2 separate regions of the Homo sapiens genome follow, and region 1 is linked to region 2. The links come from fine-mapping of genetic effects on gene expression. Tissue or cell type: whole blood. Region 2 holds a variant in brackets; the other region holds the start of a gene. All regions are shown on one strand. Distances are from middle to middle.

The links. PIP is the estimated chance that this variant, and not a neighbour inherited with it, causes the effect.
Region 1: it holds the start of EXOC1, and the variant in region 2 is fine-mapped to the expression of EXOC1 in whole blood (INTERVAL, PIP 0.92).

The regions. Positions count from the first base shown.
Region 1 is chr4:55,848,675-55,856,783 of GRCh38, reverse strand. It overlaps EXOC1 (exocyst complex component 1), which reads right to left and starts at 3,136. Exons shown (of 19, transcript NM_001024924.2): 1 at 2,831-3,136. RefSeq lists a silencer at 3,245-3,344.
Region 2 is chr4:55,891,332-55,899,440 of GRCh38, reverse strand. EXOC1 (exocyst complex component 1) reads right to left here. Exons shown (of 19, transcript NM_001024924.2): 13 at 8,019-8,109; 14 at 6,730-6,806; 15 at 5,661-5,889; 16 at 2,541-2,724. The region is part of intron 4 of EXOC1-AS1 (EXOC1 antisense RNA 1); the gene reads left to right. Among named protein-coding and RNA genes, the nearest start is that of EXOC1, 42 kb to the right of the region's middle. The variant A/T (reference allele first, on the strand shown) is at 3,866.

The DNA.
Region 1 (8,109 bases), 43 kb after region 2:
TTTTTCTTATCTAACTCAGCATCTTTTCAAACATCAACTTAAAATAATTTTAAATCTCTATTTTATTTTTCATATACATATTTGTGTGGATATGTATTACAATTTTTCAATGCAAATGTGTAGTATTTCATACATGTGAGCTTGCCTAGGACACTAACTTCTAAAACACTATTTCTTTCTATGGGAAAATGAAGAAATCATGATTTTTAAATAAATGATTTACAACGTATTTTTATAGCACAATGACTATTTTGTAAAACAAGTCTTTCCAATATTTTACTCAATCTGTAAAACTTCTATCTCTGCTCCAATTCCAAAAATTGCTTTTCTCATAAAATTCACATCTTCCCACTTCCACTTCATCTCAGCCTCTAGTCTTCTGACATTGCCCTTCTTTCTGTTCTCTTAATCTGGCCTCTCCAAGTTTACTTCTTTTCCAACCTAGCCTGGAGACAGTGCTCATTTCCCTATACCTAAACTATCCCCTACAATTATTTCACCCTGTTTGTAGACCAGCTGATCTTGTTTTTATCAATCTCCATAAACTGTATTATTTTCTTCACTTCTCTTGGACTACCAAATGCCACTTTCAAAAGCCACATATCCACGCTCATTGCGTGCATTACAAATATCTACATCCAGTGAAAGTTAGACTTTCAATGCTGCTCGGCAATTAATCCCTCATTTGATGATTCCTTTTTCCGTTCCCCATGACTATTGTTGTAAATCCTTATTACTCTCCTTCAGTTTCCAGGTCTAGCAGTTAGCCTCCTCCCGCTCTGCAAATGACTTAACAATCTACCTTGCAGAGGATATAAAAGCCATGAAATACAATTATCCCCAATTGCTTGCTTCTCCGTCTCTCCACACCTTCACCCAACCTCTCCTCCTTTTGGCTTATTATAGAGTGTCCATGCTGCTAATCCCTTAATATGTTGTAGGGCCCAGACACTATGTTATATTTCTTCCTAAGCCCAAGCCACAATGGCACTGGCCAGTTTACTTTTCTATCTCTGGGCTTTTGTTCATGCAACCTTCTTTTCCTAGAATTCTCTTCTCCCTAGGAAATTACAATTCATCCCTCAAGATTGTGCTAAAATGTCATCTTTTCTGTAAAGTAGCCCCCTCCCTGCAGCCGCCCCACGCAAAGAGTAATTTCTACCTCTCTAACACTTCCCCTCTACTTCATAAATACGGCATTTATGAATTGTATTTTCTAGCTAGCTGTATTTTATCCCCTATTAAAAGTAGGACCATGTCTTAATCATCTTTGTATTCCTAGAACTTGACAAACTAGGCATTTAACAAATGCTTAAATTCACTAACATGACAGCTATAGCTCCTCCAAGATTCCCCTTTCCTAACTTTCACATCTATAAGCAAATGTCCAGGTTCAAAATCTACCATATTTGCTTCCCTATTCCCTTATCAACATGAAATCTGCTACCACATTCTGCGATTTCCCCCCATCTACATGTAATTTATTCCTTTCTTTTCGCACTGCAAATATACTGACCCAGGTTCATATCAACTTTACTTAACCCTACAAAATCTGGTTCTCTTTGCAAGGTCCCACAACCCTGAACAACAAGATAATTTTAAAAGACAGTTTGTATCACATCACGCTTTTACTCAACGTTTTCCTAATGTTCTCAAAAACATTCCACTCCAAACACTCTGTTCATTTTGGACATCAAATCTTCACTTTGGTACTTTCCATGTAAGGAATATCATCTCCGCCCTATCCAAACCCTAATTACACTTCATGGTTTACATGAAGTTGATTCAATGAAGATCTTAATCCAAAGTGATCTCTCCTCTAAATTTCTACAGCACTTACTGCATTTGCCGTCTAATGGGCTCATTAAATCATAAGCTTCTCTATCTCAAGAATTCTCTTAAAGAAGGGAGGGATGTTCATCATAGTTTTGTGTTTAGTGGATACTTAAATATCTATTAAGGTAATTAGAACTGAATAGTAAAAACTGGTCAAATGAATAATAGGGACCAACGTTTACCACATACTCCTTCTCTGGCTAAAAGCAACTGAGTGTACAGTAAGAGGCAAAACAAGACAGGATTGGGCATACCTCATAAAGGAGTTAGCCATAATGAAAAGCAGTATGTGACTCTTCATTCATTCAGCAAATACTCATGCTTATTAGGTGGCAGACACTATTCTAGGTTACAGTAGTCAACATGACAGATATGTTTATGAAGACCTGAAGCCGGGTGTTTCTATGGCATTTACATCCTAAGAGTCGAGTGATTAACTCTTCAGTCTTTACGGTACTTTTCTGAAAGTCAGTAAATAAATCCCTAGAGGTCCTCTAAAATTATTCTCCAGGTCTGAGAACCCATATCTGACCACGTTCCAAAGGCAGCCATCCACTGCTTACTCTGTACTGGTTGTTTCCTTCAGCTCAGTTGGACCACCACACTGTGTGACAAATAGCCTGTCAGTGTGAGTGCCCGTGTGCATTGGGCCCTGTATGCTGCTGAGATATATTAATGCATGAAGCATTGCCATCTAGAAGATATAACTGTGCAAGGAAATAGAGAAATACACTTAAGAGATTTGGCGGGGGGTGGGGGGGAGTTGGGGTTGGGGGGCCGGGATGTGAATTTGGACAAAGAGGAAGGCACAGTCACGCTCTCCTCTCCTGGACCACGCCAAAGAGCTTACGATCAGGGTCATTTTGCACAAACAAAATCTGGTTCCGATGGGCGGAACCGTAATGGGGCCCGTGAGGACTGCCCTCCCAGCTCCGCATTCTCCTAGACCCGAGGACAAGGGACTGGAGAATGCTCTGACCAAACTTCGTCTTACCGGGACAAACGGGGAAAGGAAGGTCAGAAGGAGCGGTGCCCGACCCCAGGCGTGGAGACAGCAGCCGGACTGAGGAGCCGCCTTAGACCCTGGTGCCTGTCAGCTCGTCTGTCCGCCGCCGCCGGGACTACCGGGCAGCCGCGGCCGAAGGCTTACCGCAAGGCCGGACTGAGCCTGGCTGTGCCGAGGCGGGTCTTCCAAAACGGAGACCGGATGGGGGCCACTAGGATACGCCCCTCAATAAAGCGTTGAACGGGAAGCGGCCGTTCCCCCAACACTTCCTATATCCGGGCACGTGACAAACTCCGCGCCGGAAGTTGACCGCGTAGAGAAGGAAGAAGCAGCGATGGGAGAAAAAGGGAGCGGCCAATAGACGCGGAGGGGCGGGGCGCCAACCGACGGGCGTGGCCAGGCGGAACAAGGCCTCATTGGAGGGGCGTGTCAGGGAAGGGCAGGGGCGGGGCCTTTGTGGCACAGAAACTGACTTGGGAGTTGGGGATTAAGAGTTATTTATTCAGATATTTGCAGCAATTCATTTAAGAAGAAATTCGATTAAATGTTTTCTTTTTTCATACGTAAAGCTCTATTAACTCTAGATCTTTGCTACTTAAACTTTGGAGAGCTTAAATGAGTTAAATCAGAATCCCTGCGGGTGGGACCCAGACATCAGTACTTTTAATATCTTCCCAGATGATTCTCATATGCAGCTAAGGTCAAGAACCATTGTCCTCATGACCTTGATACTCAAAGTGTGGTCCGTGGATCAGCTGCTTGGGTATCATCTGGGGGCTTTTTAGGAAATGCAGCCTCTCTGGCTCACTTCAGATCTACTGAATCAGAATCTGCATCTTAGCAAGATGATGCTTATGCATATTTAAGTTTGGGATGCATAAATGATGCCAATGTTGCTGGTTGCAGGTAGGTGTTTTATTTATTCAATATTCCTGGCACCTTTTTTTTTTAATGCTAGGCACTTTGATTCCAGGTACAGAGGTGATTCAGGCATGAATCTTAACCTAAAGGAGTTCACAGTGTGGTAGGACTAGACAAGGTGTAGGTACAAATATATATAAAATAGGACACAAAATAAGTGACCAAAGAGAGGTACAGATCAGATAAATGTGCTAGAAATTTAAATGAGCAAACAGTAGTTAGAATACTTTTCACTTTCATCAAATGACTTCCCTTTTAAGAGCAGGATCTGGTTATATCTTTACAAAGACCCTTTCCTGCTTGGCACCGGAATGCTTACTGTGGACACTCTATGACAATTGCATGTGTTTTTTGGTCCTATTATCTTTCTTTTATTTACCTGTATGTTTATAGCCCTCCTCAAAGTTGGGAAATGAATTGCATTTCAGAAGCCTAGATCTCTTTCTTGAACCTCAAGATTTGTGTATATACTGCCCATCGCCTGACATTTCCACTTGGATGTCTTATAGACACCTCAAACTTGTGTGTCCAAAAATTAAATTATCCTCTCTCCTCTTGGATTCCCTGCAAAGTGACACTTATATGCAATAGTTTATTTGGAAATTTGATCCCAGGGAGCAAAATGAGGGAAGAGGAAGAAGACAAAACAAAAAGGGAGATGCAGTATAAGAATGTGTTACTGAGTTGGTCATCACCATATTTGAATGTTTTCTTAGTCCCTTAGGACCTTCTAAGAAGCTTTATGAAATGAGTCTCAGAACTGTCCATTAAAGGAAAGAACGGAGGAAGCATTTGTATGTCGGCTCCTGTCCTCTTTGATCGAAGGTTAATGCCCTTGGGCATTAACTACTTCACACTTACAAATCGCACAGTTGTGAATGCCAAGCTGACTCCCACATCAGAGACATGCTGGGGCAGGAAGTGAGAGGAGAGGTGCTGGTATTTCGCACTTGTTCAAAGGTCATCAAACCTGCTCCGAGCAGGTTGCTGCAGCAGTGGTTAGAATAATAGGCTGAAGGGATTTGAAGTCATGGCCTAAGTTGCACAGAAGGACATAGAAGGTGTCCATATCTTGCAGCACTCTGATCTGCCTGTGTGCTCTGTTATGTTCAGTCCTTCACAGAGGTCTCTTCAAGGTGATGGCCAGCCACAATCTCAGCAAAGCCTTAATATAAGAGAGTTAATAGAATAAGCTTCAGTTTTTACTGCTGCATCAATGTCAGGACCATACTTGTATTAACTCCCTCTTCCACTACCCATTCTAATTTTCCCTCACCATTGACCAGCACATCAGCTGGTCTAAGTTGTTTCTCTGGTGAAATAGCCCCCACCTTCAGCCTTTATTTTCCTTTCTCTGGTTAAGCCATGATTGCTGTAATTACCTGTTCAAATTATCCCTGGGTACAGAAACACCTAGTAAGCCCCAGCGAATTATTTGGATTCCAAATTCCTCCCTAGTGCTATTGTGGAGCAACAATCCTAGATCCTTTTGCTAATCACAGTTGATTACTCCCACGAGCATAGTAACTCCTTTCTTTGCCAGCTTGTCCACTTCCGTAAGAAGCACAAGGTAACTAAGTAAAAGTTTGAAGTGCAATGAATTCCATAGTGTTTATCCTGGTGGCAGCATTCCCCACTCAACTCCTGAAGAACCAATTATTGCAATCTAGCAAATACTAATTTTTTTTTTTTTGAGACAGAGTCTCGCTCTGTCACCCAGGCTGGAGTACACTTACATGATCTCAGCTCACTGCAACCTCCTACCTCCTGGGTTCAAGCAATTCTCATGCCTCAGTCTGCATGGCTTACTACCATGTTGCTTCCAAGTCTTTGCTCAAATGTTACCTCACTGAGGCCTTCCAAGAGAACCCTATGTAAAATAGTTCCCCAACCACCCTCCTCCCAGTATTTTTTATCTTCCTTTTTTACTTTTGTTCTTCATGGTTCTTGCTACATTTTGACATATTGTATATGTTGTTTGTTCATTTGCTGTTTCTCTAGAATGAAGTTTTATGAAAGCAAAGATTTTTATCTGTTTTTTTCAGTGATGTATCTCTGATTCCTGGAACTCAGAATAATATCTAACAATTACATAGCACTTATTATGTGCTATGTACTATTCTAAGCATTTTACATGTATTAATTAACTTAATCATCACAACTACCCTGTGAGGAAGGAATCTTTATTATCCTCATTTTAAAACCAGAAAACTGAGGAACAAATTGTCTAGTCCTAGGACACGTGGTATACCATGGTAGTCTCTCAATGAATATCTTTATGTCATCACAGCCTACTGCATGAAGTAGACTTAAGAAGCAACATGAAATAATGAAAAGTATATCATTACTGGAATTGACACAGGAGTGGGGCAGGGAAGTGCTGGGAAGGGAAGGACGTGGGCCCTGGCTAGGGCTCCACCACTGGGCCTGTGCCCATGGACCTAGGTGAGGACAGGCACTCCTGCCTTCCTGCCCAAATGTTGCATTTTCCAAGACCACCCTGGCCTGCCACACCCCTGCCTTGTGCCTATAAAAACCCTGAGACCCTAGCAGGCAGAGACACAAGCAGCTGGATGTTGAGAAGAACATATTGGCGGAAGAACACACAAGCGGCTGGACGTGCATAGAAGCGTGCCAGGGGAAGAGCACACAACAGATGCAGGCAGGCCATCAACAGGCAGGCCATCCACCGGCAGAATGATGCAGATTTTAGCCCCAGGTGGTCAGGGGAGATCTGGGCTGCTGAGCAGCCCGACTCCAGGGAAAAACCACCTTCCCACTCCATCTGCCTTCTGGCTTCTCCATCTGCTGAGAGCTACTTCCACTCAATAAAATCTTGCACTCATTCTCCAAGCCCTCACGTGGGATCCGATTCTTCCGGTTACACCAAGGCAAGAAACCTCAGGACACAGAAAGCCCTCTCCTTGCAATTAGGCAGGAGGTCTAATTGAGCTAGCTAACACAAGCCATCCGGATGACTAAACTAAAAGAGCACCCTGTAACAAACGCTGAGCAGGGCTTCAGGAGCTGTAAACGTTCACCCCTATACGCTGCCGTGGAGTCCGAGCCCCACAACCTGCCCTTCTGCATGCTCCCCCTAGAGGTTTGAGCAGTGGGGCACTGAAGAAGTGAGTGACACCCCCATCGCATGCCCTGCGATGGGGATAAGGGAATTTTCCTGTTTCGGAATCACACAGACCAGGGGTTCAAATCTGGTCTTTACCCTTTACTGAGTCAGTGACCACAGGGCAAGTTACTTAACTCTTCAGAGCCTCAATTTTCTCATCTGTATATAAAAAATAGTAATCCCATCTTGGGCATATTTGCTAAGATGTTTCTTGTAAAGCACTTGTCTCATTGCTTGGCACACAGTATAAGCATTCAATAAATGGTAGCTGTTATTACATGCAGATTGGTTTAGTAGATTAAATTGGGCAGATTTACCTACTTGAAAAACATGTAATAGTCACCCAAGGAGGTTCTGCCCAAGGAGGTTCTGAGGTCCCGCTTCCTTTACATAGAAAGAAGGCTGTATATATTAACATGTATCACATATGAGGGAATCTCATACTTACATAGCATGAAATAACTTTTCCATTGTTAGTAAGCTCCAAGGGAAAAGTCTCTTCTAAATGGTGAAGAGTAGTAAATATTGATGATTTATAGAAGTTAATTGTTTCCTCAGAGAAATCGCTCTTGTTACTGTGCACCAGTAAAGCAGAGGCCTGAAGATTGTAAAGACTTCATGTTCTTCTCAAGACCTGAATCCATTTTGCACCTTTTGAAGGGGGAGGGAGACCATCCTTTTCCTCAGCTTGAACCCCTGAAGGAGGAAGGGCAAAAGTGCCCCACTCCCTCTAGGGCTGTCTCTGATGACATCGGTGGTAGCTCCACTGGCTTTGAGGACATTGTTTAGTGAGAAAACTCATAGATTTCATGGAAGTGGACTTTCATATTTCATATTTGGATGCCTCTTTTACTGGCATCCAAACTGTCTTTTGATATCAGTCTGATTAATTTTAATTTGGGTATAAAGCTAAGGGATCTTCAAATGTTTAAAATGTTCAAATGTTTAAAATCATGTAGATTTATATAATTTCAATTTGAAATGTGACATTTTAAACATTTGACATTTATTATGACACTTACTTTGATTTTTCTCTTCCCTATTTCTTAGCATTGTTTTCTTATAATTTAATGATGCATGTTCCTGTCTAAGAAAGGAAGAACTTTTTTTCAGAGATGTAAGACTATTAGTATCAACACAAAGAACACCAAGTAACTCTTTGTGGGGGTGGGGGGTGGACAATGAGAGTTACAATGCTGCACTTCCCAGATTCTTTATT
Region 2 (8,109 bases):
GAGAAATGATGAATTATTCAAAATGTGTTAGGACAACCGGCTGGACCATTTTAATATATGAAATTTAAGTTCCTACTTTACATCTTGCAGTCAAATTCTAAATTGCTAAATTATTTAAAATGTAAAAAGCAAACAAATAATACAATCATAAGTACTAAAGAAAATATAACTAATAGAAAAATAATAATTTTGCAATAGTGTGACCTTGCTAAGAATGGCCCAAAATTTAGAAGACTGTTAAGGGGAAAGATAAATAAATTGGAGATAAAATTTGAAAATTCATGTAAAGTAAAGACACCATATACAAAATCAATGAAATGCAAAATAAAATAGTGAGATAATTTATAGCCTATCAGGTTGACAAAGAATAAAAAGATTGGTAATACCTAGTAAAACCCAGCATTGGTACAGCTGTAATGCAACTGCTCATAGCACTAAACTGACATAAGCTTTCTGTATCACAATTTGGGAAAAGACTTGAGATACATAAATCCTTTGACCCAGTAATTCCATTTCTAGTAATTTACCCTAAAGAAATTATTTGACAAGTATACAAAGATAGATAAACTAAAAAAATCCTAAATGTTTATTAATAGAAGATTTGGTAAATGGATAATGACATATGGATGACTATGCAATCATTAAAAATGATTATGTTTATCTATATTAACTAACTAAGAAAGATACTAAGATTATATAGAGTCCAGCAGCTTCAAAAATAGTGTGTCAGGTATGACAACACTTTTATATTAAAGAAAGCACACATACAATATGCCCATATATAGAAGAGAGGGACAGGGAATTTAAAAGTTTGGAAGAATAAAAATTTAACATTATCTCTGTACAACAAGATTAAAAATGATCTTTACTTTCTTCTTGATTTGAAAATTCTATTCGCTGATTTTTGGGGATAAATAGTTATTTATGTTTCAGGTCTTGTACTGGCTAGCACTTCAATAACAATGCTAAATAATAAAGGATCTAACAATACTTCTGCTTTAAATTCATTTCAGAGGGAATATCTCTACTGTTGCAGTTAAGTATCATGTAACCTTTAGGCCTGAGATAGATTTTTTATCCAATTAAAGGAATATCTGTCTGTTCTTAAGTTTTATAAGTTTTAGTTTATAAAGATTTATAAAGAACGAATAATGAATTCATTCATTCATTTATTATTTATTTTTAAGACAGGGTCTGGCTTTGTCATCCAGGCTAGAGTGCAGTAGCATGAACAAGGCTCACTGCAGCCTTGACCTCCTGAGCTCAAATGATTCTCCTGCCTCAGCCTCCTGTGTAGCTGAAACTCAGGGACACACCACCACGTCTGGCTAATTTTTTAAATTTTTTTTGTACAGACAAGGCCTCACTATGATGCCCAGGCTGGTCTTGAACTCCTGGGCTCAAGCGATCCCCCAACTGGTCCTTCCAAAGTGCTGCGATTACAGGTGTGGGCCACTGTGCCTAGCCACATTACTTTAGAATCAGATAAAGCAAAGCTACTTTGAATTTTAAAAGAAAAAATCAAGGCTGGACACGGTGGCTCATGCCTGTAATCCCAGCACTTTGGGAGGCCAAGGCGGGCAGATCACTTGAGGTCAAGAGTTTGAGACAAGTCTGGCCAACATGGTGAAACCCTGTCTCTATTAAAAATACAAAAATTAGCCAGGCGTGATGATGCCTGCCTATAATCCCAGCTACTTAGGAGGCTGAGGCAGCAGAATTGCTTGAACTCGGGAGGTGAAGGTTGCAGCGAGCCGAGATTATGCCACCGCACTCCAACCTGGGCAACAATTGGTGAGATGATTCCATTTTCTATCAATTTTTTAGCTTTTACAATTCCTGAATATATGCAATCAGATCATTTATTTCAGATGAAATGACATGTCCAGACTTTTCTGTAACTTAATTGTGGGATCTGACACAGGAAGAAAGCGAATTACAGTATTTCAGCACTAATTTCTCTTGTATTTTAGTACTAATTTCCTTGTATAGTAGATATGAAAAACTGAGTCCTAAATAAGTGAATTGATTTGCTTAAGGTTACACACACATCACAGCCCATCATCTCTAGAAGACCACTTGTTAAAATGCAAATGTAATCTGGAAGGTCATGTTTTTGTGTTTAAAAAATGATTTTCTACAAAAAATTAGCAGGGCATGGTAGGGTGCACCTGTAGTCCCAGCTACTTGGGAGGGTGAGGTAGGAGGATCTTTTGAGCCTGGGAGGTGGAGGTTGCAGTGAGCCAAGATCATGCCACCGCACTCCAGCCTGGGCGACAGAGTGAGGCCCATCTTAAAAAAAAAAAAAAAAGATTTTCAATTTTGCATAGTCATAAGCCCACATAAACCCTAAAATGTAAGTGGTTCATAATGAATACAAATAGGTTTTATTTTCCAAATTCAAGAAATCTTTAATGTTAGAAAACCTAAAAAAGATTATAAGATATACAAAATAATGAACCTATCTGCTCCCGATTTCTTAGTTACCAGAAATAAAAACAATAGCTATAACAATTCTTTAGAACATAACAAAAGCTTACCATTAACAAATACTCCTCTGATAAGTTTGGTGTATGCTTTATCCAGGTCTCCACGACGCTCAGCATTTTTGAAGATTGATTCTGCAAGTCCAGCAAATTCTTCAAATTCAGCAACAAATGGAAGAATTCCAACTTTACTCTTTTTTGAGATCTTTACTTCTTCCATTTGCCTTATTTGGTTACTCTAAAGTTAGGCAGAGAGCAAGGGAGATAAATAACCAAGCAACTTTAAAACTACATATAATCATAACAAAATATATAGATGGAGATATAGATATATACATAGATATCATAGAGGCAGGATATTATGTGGTACCTAGAACACTTTGGATGCTTACTAATTGAAGATGAATCAAAACAAGGATAACTAAGAAAAACTAATTCTATAGATAATAAAACCATTTTACAGTAAGTTTAAGAAAATCAAAATAATACAGATTATTTAAAACCATCTATAAGCTGGGGACGGTGGCTCATGCCTGTAATCCCAGCACTTTGGGAGGCCAAGGTGGGTGGATCGCTTGAGGCCAAGAGTTCAAGACCAGCCTGGCCATTTTCGTCTCTACAAAAAATACAAAAAAAAATTAGCTGGGTGGGGTCGTGCATGCCTGTAATCCCAGCTACTTGGGAGGCTGAGGAATGAGAATTGCTTGAACCTGGGAGGCAGAGGTTGCAGTGAGCCAAGATTGCGCCACTGCACTCCAGCCTGGGTGACAGAGCAAGACTGTCTCAAAAAATAAAATGAAACAAAACAAAATACAATCAAGGCCGTGAACTTCAAGTCTCTGTACAAAGTAAAAACAGTCAACACACATTTCTACCATTTATGAAAGATGAGTACAAGGCAATTACTGATTTTAGGTTACAGGAGAGAAGATTCCAGAGCACCTATAGGATCCCTCCGGGTAACTTCTGGTTGGTGGCCACGTGGTCAAGTTTGAGAACCACAGTCATTTCCAATTTTCGTCAGTCTAAAATTTCTGTCTGGATAGACAAACTCTCTATTTTCAGAGTACAGAAACAAAGAGGGAGGATAGGCATTTCCATATGGATTTGCATTATTTAATTTTCCATATATTTATTAGTCACTTAGCCTTAGTTCCACAAACTGCTTGTGCATTATATGACAAAATGCGAAAGAAATGTTTCATGCAGACAGAATCTTAGGTTCAAAACGATCCACGGATTCAATTATGGTTCTATGATTCTGAAGGGATCTAAATCTACTCAGTAGGAATGATTACACTGCCAAATACTTTTGTATTATTTCAGCTTCTACCTAACATTTCATTGTGTTGAGATTTGGGGAGTATAACTCAAAAACC[A/T]TATGACACATGGATTAGAAAAATAATTATCTCTAGGCTTCTGACATTAGTATAAGAAAACCCTAAGAGTATAGTCAGTTATTTCATATTATCTGTACTAATGTTCTACTTCATCAGTATTGGTAACTGTGAGGTGAAAAACAGATGCAGTAGAAAAGGTAGTGGTAAGATTGCAGGTACTAGAACCAGACTTTCTGGGTTTGAATACAAGATCCATATTTTTTAACTGTGGACCTGGGGAAAGTAACTTCACCTCTCAAACAATCTACCTTATTGAGGGGCTGGGTTTAAGATTAGATGACATAATGTGTGCAAAGTGCCCAGACTTGTGCCTGGTACACAGTAAGCACTCATTTATAAATGCTGTCTATTGATCTTATTGACCAGTGTTCATAAATGAGAGATAAGATCTTATCAAAAATAAGACATTATTGAAATAAGATATACAGAAGTATGACAGGCAGAAGAAACCACCCTCCTCTTCAGTGGCAAACCTATGTCCTTTATATATATATATGCAACTTATGAGAAAATATGAATTTATATCTTTGTCTAGATTACCTTCTCTAGTGCCATGCCTTGAGAAGTGTTCATGAAGCATTTTTTAACCTGGCCTAGCCCAATTCATACATACAAGTATAAAAAATGTAATGGATAGATGGCCGGTGTCTCTTGCTTGTAATCTCAGCACTTTGGGAGGCTGAGGTGGGCAGATCACCTGAGGTTGGGAGTTTGAGACCAGCATGACCAACATGGAGAAACCCCATCTCTACTAAAAATACAAAACTAGCAGGGCGTGGTGGCGCATGCCTGCAATCCCAGCTACTCGGGAGGCTGAGGCAGGAGAATCACTTGAACCCAGGAGGCGGAGGTTGCGGTGAGCCGAGATTGCACTGTTGCACTCCAGCCTGGGCAACAAGAACGAGACTCCATCTCAAAAAAAAAAAAAAAAAAAAAAAAAGTAACAGATAGTAAGAAAGTTGTCAAATTTTTTTCTATTAGGAGGAAAATGATAATTGCTCAGTTATAACAATTTATTCCTAAAATAAAATACAATTATTAAAGCTACTAAACTATTAAAATAAATTAAATAATTAAAATAATCAAATTAGTTTTCTTACTAGAATGTATTAAAAGAAGAACAATAACAATAAACCCAAATGATTGTTTCAATTGTTTCATTAAATCAATGGTCATTGACTAATAAACTGAGATGTCAGTGATTCGGTAGATTTTTTTTTTTTTTTTTTTGACACAGTCTTCACTCTTGTCACCCAGGCTGGAGAGCACTGGTGCAATCTTGGCTCACTGCAACCTCCACTTCACAGGTTCAAGCAATTCTCCTGCCTCAGCCTCCCGAGTAGTTGGAATTATAGGCATGTGCTACCACGCCCGGCTAATTTTTGTATTTTTGGTAGAGATGGGGTTTCGCCATGTTCTCCAGGCTGGTCTCGAACTCCTGACCTCAGGTGATCTGCCCACCTCGGCCTTAAAAAGTGCTGGCATTACAGGTGTGAGTCACTGCGTCTGGCCTCCAGTGGATCTCTTAAGCAACTGGTGCCACTGTGCCACTTCCTCCAGAACTTGCCAAGATTCACAGTGTGGAATGGAAACTAGCTGGCATAGTGCCACCCAACTAACTCTGTTCATGTAGATTGTTGCCATGCCCTGCTTCGAGGGACATAAACAACAGATTCCCCAACAGAAAGCTGGAAATCCCTCGATTTTAAATACATTTACCTATATTTTGCAATGACTAGGATGCTAAGGTATTTTTTTAAAAAAGAAAACTTACAATGCATTTGTCAAAGTTCCTTTTGACAGTCACCAAAACATTTCCCAATGTAGTACTTAGGAAAGAAGCAGGGTCCACATTTTGTGCAGTCCACACATGATGACTCATTTTGACTAACATATAAAGAGAGTTAAAGCTATCAATTTTGTCTCCTAATGCAATTAGGTTGTTCAGCTCTGGCTCAATGCAGCGAAATATTTTAATCATCATTTGGCGGATCATATCTTTCCTGTTCAGAAAACAGACAAGAAGTATAAAGTTATAACAAGCTTCAGGTGAATTCACCGTTAACTTTAATCCACTGGGTATATACAAAAGGACAAAAATACCATAATTAAATTTCAATTAAAAATGTCTAAATAGCCAGGCGTGGTGGCTCACGCCTGTAATCCCAGCACTTTGAGAGGCCAAGGTGTGCAGGTCACCTGAGGTCAGGAGTTCAAGACCAGCTTGGCCAACATGGTAAAACCCTGTCTCTACCAAAAGTACAAAAATTAGCCAGACGTGGTGGTGCATGTCTGTAATCCCAGCTACTTGGGAGGCTGAGTCAGGAGAATCGCTTGAACCCGGGAGGTGAAGTGCAGTTGCAGTGAGCTGAGATGGCGCCATTGCATTCCAGCCTGGGCAGCAGAGGGAGACTCCATCTCAGAAAACAACAACAACAAAAAACAAATAAAAATGTCTAAATATGATTATAGTAGTTTTTGATATAAAAATATTTTACTGATGTTGGGTTTTATCATTTGAATTAGTTTTAATTTGTAAAGCTGGGTCATGAAATGTGCTTTGTGATTTCTAAGAAATACACTACAATTCAAAGGCTTCCCCCTACCAGCAAACAACAGACTGACTTCATCTTCTGTAAGTCCTGGAGCAAGGAAGAGTTGAAGAGCCATAAAATAGGCCCTATTTTAAATCAGTAAAACGTTTGATAAGACAATGGACACACATGCTGGTACTGTGAGTGCTGTCAGGCTACTGAGAAACATCTAGACCCCTCAATGAGCAGCACTCCACATTTTAAAGTTTATTTTTTCCAAAATAAACAATGATAGTAACAAAGACATACTCAGATGAAACAGGCAGTGGTGTGCCACAATTATGTTGCCGTGATAATGTTCCTCCATCCAGGTCCTCTGCTTCAGCCTGCAAAAATTATTCAGGCACTTTACATAATAAAAGACCAACAATTTGACTAGTATTGATATAGCAAAAGCCTGCTCAGTCTTAAAATTCCTAGGAAAGAATACATTATGAAAAATATTTTTAAAGGTAGCATTATGATAAAGCTAGCTATATAATTTAGTATGCTATTTAAGAATGTTCATGAGATACTCTTCTTAGGTTTTATCCAAGAACTTTTGTGGGGTGAGAAGTTGTATTTGTGTGTGCACCTGAGGGGAAGTAGGGAGGTACAGGAAGCTGAACGCAAGGTGTGGGAGTGGGGGCAGCTTGACAACAACCACCACAAAAATAGAAAACGTCCAAACACAACTTTCAAAAGAGAATTTAAAAAATTAAGGAAATCTCATCAATTATTCTAATAGAACTTCAGCATTAAAAAAATGCTATAAAAAATTCTTACAGAGGCCAACAAATAAACAAATTTGCCACCATTACTACCATAACAATGAACACTCTAAACCATTTATCATAATCCATTTCTCATTTATTTTATGACTGCTTTTATAAGTTGGTTGTCTGTGGCATACAATTTTGAGATGATAATTTAAAAAACACTTTATTTGCACTGTTTTTAAGTTCTTCAAAATACTCAAGAAACTCTCTCATCTTATTCTCTTATATGTATGCTACCAGAAAGGCATGCTGAATAGGCACTATGATATCTACTTTACAGAAGAGGAAAGCTGGGGATCGAATAACTGGCTTAAGATCTCATGGCTAGTTAGTAACAAAGCCACAAGGAAGGCAAATCTGAGGCCTCATTTTCTTTTATTTATCATTATTGTTATTTGGTATACCAAAGTGTATACACTCTAACATCATTTTAAAACATTATATTTATCTTGATGACTACTAAAATGTTAAACTAGCCTTTTAAATAATGTTCTTTGCAAAGTAAACTCAGACATTCCTCCCCCCACTAATTTAGAGAATATTTAGGCTTGTAATATTCTGAAATATTAAATTAGATGCCCAAACTTCATCTGTCACTGTTTTTATCATCTTGTGGTATTACAAAAATTCCTTACATCCTAAATCCTTACATCATAAAAAAATCCTTACATGATAAATTCTTTCCTTTTCTCTTCTGATCATAAAATTGTGACCACATATTAATTAAGCTAATTATATTACAGATCATAAATACTATCCAAAATACACTGTGAGCCATACCATAGTTCCAGGCATACTTTGATGTTGCTGTAGTTTGAAAAATTTACTTATGAAGTCCTGTTCTGCCAGACATAGGGGCTCCAGTTCACTT